3 separate regions of the Homo sapiens genome follow, and regions 1 and 2 are each linked to region 3. The links come from fine-mapping of genetic effects on gene expression. A gene starts in region 3. Each other region holds a variant in brackets. All regions are shown on one strand. Distances are between the middles of the regions.

Region 1 (4,117 bases), 110 kb before region 3:
TTTTTGAATTCTTTGCTAACTTTTATTGGAGTGTGTTTTTTTCCTTTAGTTTGCAGAAGCTTTATATTTTCTAGGTTATAATTTTGTAATTTACATTTTCGTTTTGTTCAAGGTTCCCTCCCCCACTGCCCACCCGCCCCCAGTGAAAAAGCAGTGATAGTTAAACTTGGCAGTCTTTTCTTTTTATGGTTTCTGTCTTTTTTTTTTTTTTTCTTTTTTCTTTTTTTGAGACAGAGTCTCACTCTGTTGCCCAGGCTGGAGTGCAGTGGCACGATCTCGGCTCACTGCAACCTCCACCTCTTGGGTTCAAGCAATTCTTCTGCCTCAGCCTCCCAAGTAGCTGGGACTACAGGCATGCACCACCACACCTGGCTAATTTTTCTATTTTTAGTAGAGACGGGGTTTCACCATATTGGCCAGGCTGGTCTCGAACACCTGACTTTATGATCGGCCCACCTCGGCCTCCCAAAGGGCTTGGTTTCTGTCTTTAAAGTCTTGTTTAGAAAGTCTTTCTCTACCTTGAGATTATAAAAATATTTAATTATATTTCTTCTAGTACTTTTTTGGACTTAAAAAAAATAAGTTGTTAATATAGCTGAATTTATTTGATGTGGGATTTGTAGTAGGGAATCATATTTCCCCCAAATGCCTAGCCGTTGTACTATCACTTATTGAGAAATATACTTTTCCTACTGAATTAAAATGTCACCTGTAATATAATAAATTAAAATATATTAATGACTGGATCTCTTTCTGGCCTCTCCTGTTTTGTGACCAGTGCCAGGGTATTCTTATTTCTATTTTAGCATTTAAGTGAGATATAGTGTATTTAAATACCTAAATGATCTTTGTGTAAATAAGATTTTAAAGGTTTAAAATGAAGCATAGTGTAGATTTATTAGTTTAGTTCTACCCATATCTCCTTACTGAGTTTACTCCCTTCTTATGCTTAAGACAAGCATTTCCATTTCAAAGCAACAAAAATAAAATACGGAAGCCCACATAAGCAGGAATAGTGCTTACCTCTTAGGCTTTACTGCTTTTTGATTATTGTCTTCATCCTGTGCCCTATCCTTGACTATAATTAAACTCCGATAGCCAATTATTAAAGTATTTTTTTGTTTTCTTACTGGTACAGTTCATTATAAAAAGCAAAGCTTGCTATTCCCTATCTAGGAGCCATCAGTTTTCTTGTGCTGTTAGGGAAGGATGAAAAAGGAGGGATGGCTGGGCACGGTGGCGCAGGCCTGTAATCCCAGCACTTTGGACGGCTGAGGCGGGCAGATCACGAGGTCAGGAGATCGAGACTGTCCTGGCTAACACGGTGAAACCCCGTCTCTACTAAAAATACAAAAAAAAAAAAATTAGCCAGGCGTGGTGGCGGGCACCTGTAGTCCCAGCTACTCCGGAGGCTGAGGCAGGAGAATGGTGTGAACCCGGGAGGCAGAGCTTGCAGTGAGCCGAGATTGTGCCACTGCACTCCAGCCTGGGCGACAAAGCGAGACTCCGTATCAAAAAAAAGAAAAAGAAAAAGGAGGGGTGATATTTTTGTTAACAACTGATATGTAAAAGGAGTAGAAACAGGAAAGAGTTCTTAGAGGTAAACATGTTGCCGATACCAAAAATGGACAAAGAAAAAATATAAAAACTGGAAAAGTTGAAATCCTTTAGTATGTTTTGCAAAAAGATAGGTGGAAACTGAGGGTAAAAAAAAGTAAGTTATGAAATTGAGGTATAAGCATTTTATTTAGAATGATTGAGTGTAACCACTAAAAATAAACATAAATGTTTAAAAGTAGTCACTTGTCACTGCAACACTGGGTATGATGGAAGACTTGTTTCTTTTTATATTCTTTAGCACAGTTTTTTGTGTGTTTTTATTATATAGTTAATATATAAAAAATTAGTCTTCTCAATGCATAAAATCTCAGCATTTAATACTTTTTTTTTGTCATTGTAACAGACTTAAAAATTTTTTTGTAATGGTTCAATCCATTGCTGAAAAAAAGATGGGTAACATTATTGGACACTGTTATGCATAGCTCTCTATGAAGGTTCTATCATTTAAACCTTCAACCTTATATGATAAGGAGGCTTCATTCTCCATTTTAGAAATGAGCTAATTGAGTGCTTAGTGACTTGTTCTCCAAGGTCATAAAGATACTAAGTGAGTTGTAGGGGACTGCCAAGTCCTCATGCTTTTTCTGCCT[T/TGTAAG]GTACAATTTCTGAAATTTTAATTCTGCCTCCTTGTTGTAGACCCCAGTGGCCTTTACTTTTATCACCTGCTTATCCTTTGGTTTGTCAAAAAATACTGCTGGCTGTGCAGAGGTACTGTGCCTAGCTGTTGTGGGTAGTACCAAGGGAAAGAATAAAACTTGTCATTTCTGTTTTCTTAGCCCACTTAATATACCTATAAATTAACAATATAAAGAAAAAAAATCAATAAAATTGATACTTGTAGCCAGACTGAGGAATAAAGAGAACATACTAATTACCATTATTAGGAATGAAAGGTGACTTCAGTACAGACATTGAAAGGATGATATGGCAATATTATGAACAACTTTATGTCAGTAAATGGAGAACTCAGATGAAATGGAAAAACTCTTTAAAAGACACAAGCTACAAAACTCACTCAAGAAGAAATAGGTGACTGCTTGCCTTATACTTATTAGAGAATTGAACTTGTAGTGGAAAACCCTGCAATAATAATTCTGGTCTGAGTTGCTTCACTGTTGAATTCTATAAAACATTAAAGACTAAATCCCATTTGATACAGTCTTCCATAAAATGGTGTCATCTTATGAAACCAGCATTACCCTGATATTCAATCCATAAGAAGACTTTACAAGAAAACTGTAGACTGATAACCCTTATGAACATAGATGTAAAATTTCTAAATAAAAGTTTAGCAACTCAAATCCAACAGTATATTTAAAGAATACTGCATCATGACTAAGTGGGGTGTATCCTAGAAGTGTGGGATTTGTTTAACATTTGAAAAATCAATCAGTATACTTTGCCATTACAGTGGACTTAAAAAAAGACCAGTCTGGGTGACAGAGTGAGACCCTGTCTCAAAAAAAAAAAAAAAATTAATGTTCTAAATTATGGTGACATCATATGTTGTAATTAGTAAATATGTCCATATGTATAAAATACATATTAAGGATAGAAATTTGATTTAGATATGAATATTTATGTAATTTGCCATATAACAGATTAAATGAGATCATTTATGATATTAGTGAATGTGGTTAAATTGATAAAAATTCAACATTTATCATCTCAAGATATATATCTATCTCACTATATATAGATAGATATCTTGATATATGTAGTGTATATGTAGTGTGTGTGTGTGTGTATATATATATATATATATACATATATATATACATGTATAGTATTATTTAGTTAGGTTCTTAAGAAGTTTAAAACACCAATTTGTGAGGATAAATTCCATTCGTCAGGGCAAACACAGATCGCAGGTAGCCCTGGAGCTGAGGAATAGCTTTGATTTTTCGTACAATTTGTGAGTCCACAGCTTTCTGATCAATCTTGCACTGCTCTGTAGTCTTGTAGTTCTCTTTTTCTGTGTCAGAGATCTCACCTTCCTGGTGTCTGGGCTTCTGCAACTGCTTCTCGAAGTGAGCATCAATAAGATGTTTTGGGATTTTTACATTGCTAATGCCAGTTTTGGTTGAGATGGCAATGACAAATTTCTGGTGTGTTCAAGCTCCACCTGATTAAGAGATATTTTTGAAAGATTGACAAAATTCATTTCTGGTAAAAATTCTCAGCACACTAGGAATAGCAAGGAATTTTCTCAACTGGATAAAATAATCTTTGAAAAATATTACAATTGACATATTAATGATAAAAGACTTATTGTTCTCTCCCAAAGACTGGGAATGAGGAAGAATGCCCATTTTTACCACTTCTGTTTAACGTTATGTACAGGAGGTCCTAGCCAGTGCAGTAAGGGCATGATAAAGAGAGAGGTATCCAGATTGGAAAGGAAGAAGTAAAAATTGGCTTTATTCATGGATAGGAAAATCCTAGGGAATCTACAAAATAAGCTACTAGAACTGTAAGTCAGTTTAATGAGGTTGCAGCATA
Region 2 (4,117 bases), 35 kb before region 3:
AATTGAGTGGGATTGAGAAGTGGGGGAAGGGAAAAGGGGGAAGAAAGTAGCTGGTGGCAACAAAACATAGCAACAAAAACAGATCTTTTTCCTCACAGTTGCTGGGGTTTCTTTACCAGTATGAGGTCAGCCAAATCCTAGGGGACCCTGGCCTTTTGTGACTCTGGCCTCTTAGTTCTCTATCTCAAGGGAGCAGCCACTCCCGTGCCATTGCAGACTTCCTGTAGTGGTCCCTCACACTAAAAGGGAAAGCATTTCCTGCCAACTTCTGTTGTGGGTCCAAGCAGGAAGCCCTTCCTAACAGTGCCACTGTCTTGGCTCCACCTGGACTCGCTTCCATTGGCTAGTGCCTGTCCTCTAGCTCGTGAACTGATCAGATCCAGGGACTTGAGAGAGCAGAAAAGCTTCGAAGGCCCTGCCCAGTGTCTAGGATTGTATGTTTAGGGCTCTGGGACCGCTTGGGATCTTATGCTGTGCCACCTCTGTTGAGGATGGCTCTGGACTCTGGAGAGTTCTGTCCTTGCCTCCTTCATTTCTTTCAGCACTCACTATTAATCACCCCTCCCTTCTGGGAGCTCTCCACTTCACTGGCTTCCTGGTTCTCCTCCTCTCTTTCTCACTGCCTGTACCTCATCTTCTCCATGCTCTAAAAATAGGTGTTGTCTGAGGTTGGGAGTTTGAGACCAGCCTGACCAACATGGAGAAACCCCGTCTCTACTAAAAATATAAAATTAGCCAGGTGTGGTGGCGCATGCCTGTAATCCCAGCTACTTGGGAGGCTGAGGCAGTAGAATCACTTGAACCCGGGAGGTGGAGGTTGCTGTCAGCCGAGATCGTGCCATTGCAGTCTAGCCTGGGTAACAAGAGTAAAACTCCATCTCAAAAAAAAAAAAGACTGCAATCTGCAGGCTGGAAACTACTGTTCTATCTAGTATGAATGAGCAGTCCTGTCTCTTGCCTCTACGCCACCTGTTTTTTCCATCTACTTTAATGAGAGCCAGAAGAGCACTTAAACACGTGGCTTTATTCTTTCTTTCTCTCCTGGGAATAGGCTAGTATGAAGTTACCCCTTTATCTTATTAAAGTGAGAGATGATTTTGCTGGCCCTCTTTCTCTCTGGAGGATATGATAGTGCTCTGCCTAGTTCCTACTGGGAGTGGTGGGTATTCAAGCCCTCCCTCACATTATACTTGTAGTAATTCTGCCTCCAGTAGCCTTGCTTCAGGGGAAAGATGACACCTCTGTCAGGTTGGTATACGCTTTCTTCCATCTCAACACTGTCCACCTGCCAAAGCAAAAGCTGGGTCACAGTTTGGGTATTCTCCATGCTTCAAGGCTGCATTCTGGGTGTGGAGGAGCTCACTGTAGAGAACCAAGTGGGTCCTCTCTTCTTCCTTCTGAGTTTCCACTTGTGCATGAAGCAGTGTTCCTAGAGCTGTAGATGGATGGGTCAGGGTGCCAGCTGCCTGCAGCAGTTGTGTCCCAAGTCACTGCCCAGACACAGTTGCCTGGACTGGTGTGTCTCCTGGGCTGTATTTCATCGGCATTTGGGCCTTGAAGGTTTGGAGCTGAAGTTCCTGTCAGAACTTTGGGCTGAATCCCAGACTTTATGGACAGTAATTTTCTCGCAGGGCCTCTTTCCTA[A/C]CTCACTTTCTTCAAGCGATCCTTGAGGCCAGAACTCTCACTTGTGGGCTTGCTTCCTCATGTGGAAAGATGCTGTAGTATTTAGAGGGGTGGGTCATTGGTTCTCAGAGTGTGGTCTGAGAAGCCTGGAGTCCCCAAAACCCCTTTAGGGGGTCCATGATGTCCTGTTTCCAACTACATATCCAAATGAGGCTAGGTTTTCTTCGCATACTTCCACTAGATAATGTCAGGACAGATTGAATGCAGATGCAGATATGAGAACCCAGCTCCCTTCTGTTAAGCCAGATATGAAAAAGGTTTGCAAAAATGTAAAACAGTGCCATTCTTCTCACTAATTATTTTTGTTTTGGAAAATAAAGTTATATTTAATAAGAACGCTAATATGTGGGCTGGGTGCAGTCGCTCACGCCTGTAATCCCAGCACTTTGGGAGGCCGAGATGGGTGGATCATGAGGTCAGGAGATCGAGACCATACTGGCTAACACGGTGAAACCCCGTCTCTACTAAAAATACAAAAAATTAGCCGGACGTGGTGGCATGTGCCTGTAGTACCAGCTACTCGGGAGGCTGAGGCAGGAGAATAGTGTGAGCTTGCAGTGAGGCAAGATTGTGCCACTGCACTCCAGTCTGGGTAACACAGTGAGACTCCGTCTCAAAAAAATAAATAAAAATAAAAAAAGAATGTTAATATGTAATGGGTTTATTGTTATTTCTAAATGATTTAGTAAATATTTTTAATGTTTCAGATTGTGATTTCAAATATAGTAAATATTGATAGACATAACCCGCATAAACAGAAGCTCTCTGTTGTCCTTGATAAGCTCTAAGACTGTGAAGAGTTCCCAAGACCAAAAGGTCTGAGAATCTCTGGGCTAGGTCCTGCTTGATAACAAACCACCTCAAAAATCCCCCTGGCTTAAGCAACAGTTTATTTCTTGCTCATGCTACATATTCAGTGAAGGTCAGCATGGGGACCCAGGTCAAGGGGCCCATCTCATCGCCTGCTGCCGTGCTTAGCAGTCAGAAAGAGGGGTACTCACGATGGTGGTTCTGTGACATGTCAAAGAATTATACAAATATGTAGCTGCATAAGGACAGACATGAGAAACTTAAATACAAACACAGATATTTGGCCGGGCGCGGTGGCTCACTCCTGTAATCAGCACTTTGGGAGGCCAAGGTGGGTGGATTGCTTGAGGTCAGGAGTTTAAGACCAGCCTGGGCAACATGGTGAAACCTCATCTCCCCACTAAAAATACAAAAATTAGCCAGACACGATGGTGGGTGCCTGTAATCCTAGCTACTCGGGAGGCTGAGGCAGCAGAATCGCTTGAACCCTGGAGGCAGAGATTGCAGTGAGCTGAGATCACCCCACTGCACTCCAGCCTGGGTGACAGAGCAAGACTTGTCTCAAAACAGCAACAACAACAAACCAGATGTTTGAGTTCTTCATACTCTTTCCCTCCACATTGCCAGATCAGTGAGTGTCAACCAAATGCCTTGAGGCTAGAGAGAGAAGTGGGGATGTGAGTTATAGAAGGATGTTGCTCATAAGGTCCTGAGCCCCACACCACATCTTCCACTATATTTTTTCTCTCTTTTTAATATTTGCTATGCAATATTTAAGACATACAATAAAGACGTGGAATAATAGGCAATGTGTGCCTACCATCAGCTTAAGAAACAAAATGTTACCTGTACCATTAAGTGCCCTTTCTGCTTGTCCTCGGTCGGTCATAGCCTTTCTGTCACAACCAGTTTTAGATACTTTGTGGAGAACAACTTTATTGGTCTGAAATACCCCAGTTTTCCTGGGCTTTCACTGTTTCTGAAGCCTCTGTAAGGCATTCATTTATTCCTTAAATATGTATCAAGTGCCCATTGTATGCCAGAGACTGTTTAAAGTGCTGGGAATACATCCATGGGGGACAGCAACCTAGGTCCTGTCCTCAAAGAGCTCACATTCTGATGGGACAGACAGGCAGTAGTAAGTACATGGACAGAGATGTAATCAATGTTGGGTTGTTACCTGCCTCTGAGCTATGAAGAAAAGTAAGGCTGGGTGGCCGGGCGTGATGGCTCATGCCTGTGATCCCAGCACTTTGGGAGGCCGAGGCGGGCAGATCACTTGAGGTCAGGGGTTCAAGACCAGCCTGGTCAATATGGTGAAACCCTGTCTCTACCAAAAATACAAAAATTAGCCGGGCATGATGGTGGGCACCTGTAATCTCAGCTGCCTGGGAGGCTGAGGCAGGATAATTGCTTTAACCTGGGAGGCAGAGGTTGCAGTGAGCCGAGATCATACCACTGCACTCCAGCCTGGGTGACAAGTGAAACCCTGTCTCAAAAAAAAAAAAAAAAAAGAAAAAGAAAAAAGAAAAACTAAGGCTGGGTAAATTGGGTATAAGATTATGGCAGTAAAGCTAGTCTGGAAGGCCCTCTCTGAGGAAGAGACCTTTGAGCAAAGACTTCA
Region 3 (4,117 bases):
GTGCCCGTCAGCCAACTGTGGGCCTTCACCTCTACCTGCACTTCCCCTCTCACACCAGCTGCACTCCCGTGGCTGCCAGAGCAGGGTGGTTTTCCCCAATACCTGGAGCTCAGAAAGGCAGAGCCATCTGGCCCTCCAGGGTGTCCCCAGCCATCAGGAGACTTGAGTTGGTATTTGGACCTGAGCCCGCACATTCCACTCCCATTCTCCCTCCAAGAGGGGCCCAGCATTGTATTTCCCTGTGACCCCTTACTCTCCTGGCCAGAACTTGAGCCAGCTGTGGGATGTTGCTGCAGGACAGTAAGCCCTCACCTGGGCAAACATGAAGCTCTGGCCTCCTTTCCTCAGCCCCTTGTTCTTCCCTGTCCTCCACCCTGGACCCCAGCCGGCTGCTGGAGCCCAGAGGCCACCTTCTCCCTGCATCCTGAATGATGCTTAGTCAGAAGCCTGTGTTGGAACATCCCTCGTTTACGGGGCGCTGGCCTACCTCCTGAGGACCTCAGCCACAGATGAGATCACACGCATGCACGTGCACACATGTACACACACACACCTACCTGCACAGCACGCTGTTGAGTGTTGGTTGCTAGAGTATCTGGCTGGCTGCTGTGTGCCTGGTTTCCTCACATCCTGCCTCAGCTTCACCACCCTGGCTTATGTGGAACACCTATCAGGGAGCAGAAAAGGGGTGCAGTACACTAAGTGAACCCAGATTCTGGATTCTTGGTGTCCACAGCCTAGCTGATACGAGATAGCCCATAGGACACCTGGTTTAGGTAGAAGGAGCCTCCTCAAAGGCAGTGCTGGGCACCCACGGGTGTGCTGGATACTGGAGTTTGAGAGGAGGGAGGTGCTGGGGCCAAAGGAGACACTAGAAAAGTGGTAGATGGGACAGGTAAGTGGCAGAGGTGAGGGGATAAGTTAGAATGTAAAAGGGCAGTAATTAGGGGTGAGGGAAAGGAGATAGGGGACCCTAGGAGGTAGAGTGGGACCATGTCGTGAGGCAGTTGAAGAGTTGAGGAAAGGTTTTTCTGGGCCCTACTGCTCCCCTCTGCTGCAGGTAAGTCAGAGCAGCTTTACCACAGCTTCAGGCCACGAGAGCCCCTTCACCCGCCCTGCTGCGCCATAGGCAGAGGCTTATAAAGAAATGGGTTCTGGGCCAGGTGTGGTGGCTCAAGCCTGTAATCCCAGCACTTTGGGAGGCCGAGGCGGGTGGATCACCTGAGGTTAGGAGTTCGAGATCAGCCTGGCCAACATGGTGAAACCCTGTCTACTAAAAATAAAAAAATTAGCTGGGCGTGGTGGTGGGCGCCTGTAATCCCAGCTACTCGGGAGGTTTAGGCAGGAGAATCGCTTGAACCCTGGAGGTGGAGGTGGAGGTTGCAGTGAGCCGAGATCGCGCCATTGCACTCCAACCTAGGTGACAAAGCTACACGCCATCTCAAAAAAAAAAAAGAAAAAGGGTTACAAAAGGTTCCCAGCTCCGGGGCATCAGCCTGAGTGCGCTTGAGCTGCTCCAAACCTGGCCCTTCCCCACTCCTCTAGCATCGCCACCCGCATGGCCCTGGAACTCCCGCGGCGGCGGGGGCGGGCCCGTGCCTGCTGTGCCCCGACTTCCCACACCAGCCGCGCCCACCGCAGGTGGGACTCAGGTTCGCCCTCTGGGCCAGGTCCTTCACGAGGAGGGAGCTACCCTTCGCCAGAAGTTTGTGAGAATGTGGCCGCCCTTTTCCTGCCCTCTGCCCCATGTGGGTGGGGGGCCTCGTGGCCCGGCCGGCGCCCCGTCCCCTTCTGCATGTCTGAGGCCACCGGCAACCGCCGCCCCACTCCAGATTTGCCCCCGCCTTGTTTTGAAAGCCCCTTATTTATAACTTTTATACTTTGTGCAGGTCGCGGCGCTTCCTGCCTCATCCTCGGCTGCATGGGGCGGGGGCGCTGTTTTTAACGTGCCCGTTTGTACTGATGTATGAACTTGTCAATAAACACAATTGTTTGTTAACCCTGGGATGCCGGCCAGTGGGGCAGGCCGAAGCGGGCGCTGCCAGTCGCTCCACCGCTTCGGTGGCAGAACCCGGTGTGTGTCCAGGGGCAGGACGGGGCGGGGTGCTGGGGGTGTGGCCTGCGGCGGGTGCCTCTGGAAGGGCGGGGCGAGGGTCTGGGGGTGTGGCCTGCGGCGGGGACTCTGGGGAGGGCGGGGCGAGTGCTTGGGGTGTGGCCTGCGGCGGGGCGTCGGGGAAAGGCGGGGTCTCGGCCGGCGCTGACGCAGCCATGGCGGAGGCGGCTTTGGAAGCCGTGCGGAGCGAGTTACGAGAATTCCCGGCCGCTGCAAGGGGTGAGTGGCTCTCCCACAGGCTGCGGCGATTTCCGAACACGGGAGGGGCCCTGGGATGCCGCTGACACCGGGGGCTCGGAACCTCGTGTGTGCGACTGCCCTGAGGCCCCGCTCGGGTTGCTCTTCTGTGGCAACCTGCTTCCCTTCTCCCGTGTTCGCGCGCTCCCGCGGCTTCCTGGGTGATTCTGTTCACGTTGTTCCCAAGGCCCGGTGCCGTCTTGACCGTGGTCGCGGCGAAGCCCTGTGTTTCCTACAGTCTTGAGCAGCTTGCTGTTACCCTTGTTGAAAGCTCATCGAAGGCACACAGCTGGTGGTCGGATTCCTCCCCCACGCGCCCCACCTCCGACCTCAACTCCCTTGTCGCACTTTGGGAGGATTGCAGGCTGACCAAATGGTCCCTGGCTCTTCCCCTGCTTGGTTTTTATTCCTTTTCTTTCTTTCTCTCTTCCCTCCTTCCTTCTTTTTTCTATTTTTAAATGATTTCTTACCACTGAACAGCAACACAGGCTCATGTGTATGTGATGGGTATGTAATATACAGTGGTACGCAATGTAAATGAAGCAAGGTTTCCTCCCAGCCCCAGTTTGCATTCTTACAGAAAGATTGTTTATATCCGTGCACACACGACTTTTTACCCTTTTTTTGTACAAATAGTAGCCTGCTAAACACACTCTTCTGCACCGTGTATCTTGGAGATCATTTCACATTCCTCTACCTCAGTCTTTTTCACGTCTGTGTGCTAGTGCTGTATTCACTTAGTCATTTAGGTCATGTCCAATCCGTTGTTTTCAATAATGCTGCAACGAATACTTTGAGGATTGATTTAACAAATACTTATTCAGCATCTCTGTGTGCCAGGCTCTGTTCAGTGTGTTTGAGATACATCACTGAACAAAACAAATCTGTCTTTTACAGTCTATGTCCTGTTACATTCTAAGTGAGAACGTGGACAATCAACCACAGGTGTACTGAATGAGTACATTGTAGAGTAGAAGAAGTAGGTTAGAAGGTAAGTGCAGGCAAAGCCCTCTTTGGGAGTATGCCTGATGTGTTTAGGAAACAGTGAAGAAGCCAGTCTGCAGGAGCAGCGTCTTCTGCGCATGTGTGAGTATGTTTGTTGGTTAAATACTTTATATTTTTTGAGACAGGGTCTTACTCTGTCACACAGGCTGGAGTGCAGTGGCACGATCATAGCTCGCTGCACCTCGACCTCCCAGGTTCAAGAGATCCTCCTGCTTCAGCACCTGGGAGTAGCTGAGACTACAGGCATGCGCCACCACGCCTGGCTAATTTTTTTGAATTTTAGTAGAGACAAGGCTGGTCTCAGATTCCTCAAACAATCCTTCCACCTCAGCATTCCAAAGTTTTGGAACGCCATGGAACACATAAGCCACTGCTCCCGGCCTTGTTAAATTCTTAGCAGAGTTATGGGGTCAAAGCAATTGTTTGGATCCCTTTTGAAATTTTCTCACTTGGAAGCCCCAGGAGAGGAAAGCAGCCATTCTCTAAAGGAAATGGTGAGCAAGTAAAACAAATCCCTAATTGCAGAAGTCCAAAGGGTGAAAAAATGGCAGTTTCCATGTATTTTCAGAATCCCAGGCTGTGTGCAGTACTCACGCCTGTAATCCTAGCACTTCAGGAGACCAAGGTGGGAGGCATCTCTTGAGGCCAGGAGTTCAAGACCAGCGTGGGCAACATAGTGAGACACCATCGTGTGGTGGCATGTGCCTGTAGTCCCACCTCCTGAGGCAAGAGGATTGTTTGAGTCCAGCAGTTTTGATGACA

Which allele goes with the higher level. Alleles are on the strand shown, and positions count from the first base shown. SD is a standard deviation of normalised expression in the study named.
With allele TGTAAG in place of T in region 1, the expression in coronary artery of the gene that starts at base 2,236 in region 3 is lower (small effect, 0.21 SD a copy in GTEx).
With allele A in place of C in region 2, the expression in monocytes of the gene that starts at base 2,236 in region 3 is higher (moderate effect, 0.68 SD a copy in CEDAR).

Evidence for each region. PIP is the estimated chance that this variant, and not a neighbour inherited with it, causes the effect. A credible set is the group of variants that fine-mapping cannot tell apart.
Region 1: its variant is the best candidate, but not a certain one, in a credible set for the expression of JMJD7-PLA2G4B in coronary artery (GTEx, PIP 0.67).
Region 2: its variant is the best candidate, but not a certain one, in a credible set for the expression of JMJD7-PLA2G4B in monocytes (CEDAR, PIP 0.51).

What each region holds. Positions count from the first base shown.
Region 1 is chr15:41,714,941-41,719,057 of GRCh38, forward strand. All of the region lies in intron 9 of MGA (MAX dimerization protein MGA), which reads left to right. Among named protein-coding and RNA genes, the nearest start is that of MIR626, 25 kb to the left of the region's middle. The variant T/TGTAAG (reference allele first, on the strand shown) is at 2,211.
Region 2 is chr15:41,791,175-41,795,291 of GRCh38, forward strand. The region is part of intron 2 of MAPKBP1 (mitogen-activated protein kinase binding protein 1); the gene reads left to right. Among named protein-coding and RNA genes, the nearest start is that of MAPKBP1, 19 kb to the left of the region's middle. The variant A/C (reference allele first, on the strand shown) is at 1,645.
Region 3 is chr15:41,825,857-41,829,973 of GRCh38, forward strand. JMJD7-PLA2G4B (JMJD7-PLA2G4B readthrough) reads left to right here and starts at 2,236. Exons shown (of 25, transcript NM_005090.4): 1 at 2,236-2,332. The coding sequence starts at 2,269. MAPKBP1 (mitogen-activated protein kinase binding protein 1) reads left to right here. Exons shown (of 31, transcript NM_014994.3): 31 at 1-1,999. It overlaps JMJD7 (jumonji domain containing 7), which reads left to right and starts at 2,236. Exons shown (of 8, transcript NM_001114632.2): 1 at 2,236-2,332. The coding sequence starts at 2,269. RefSeq lists enhancers at 1-788, 1,834-2,063, 2,095-2,389 and a silencer at 2,124-2,213.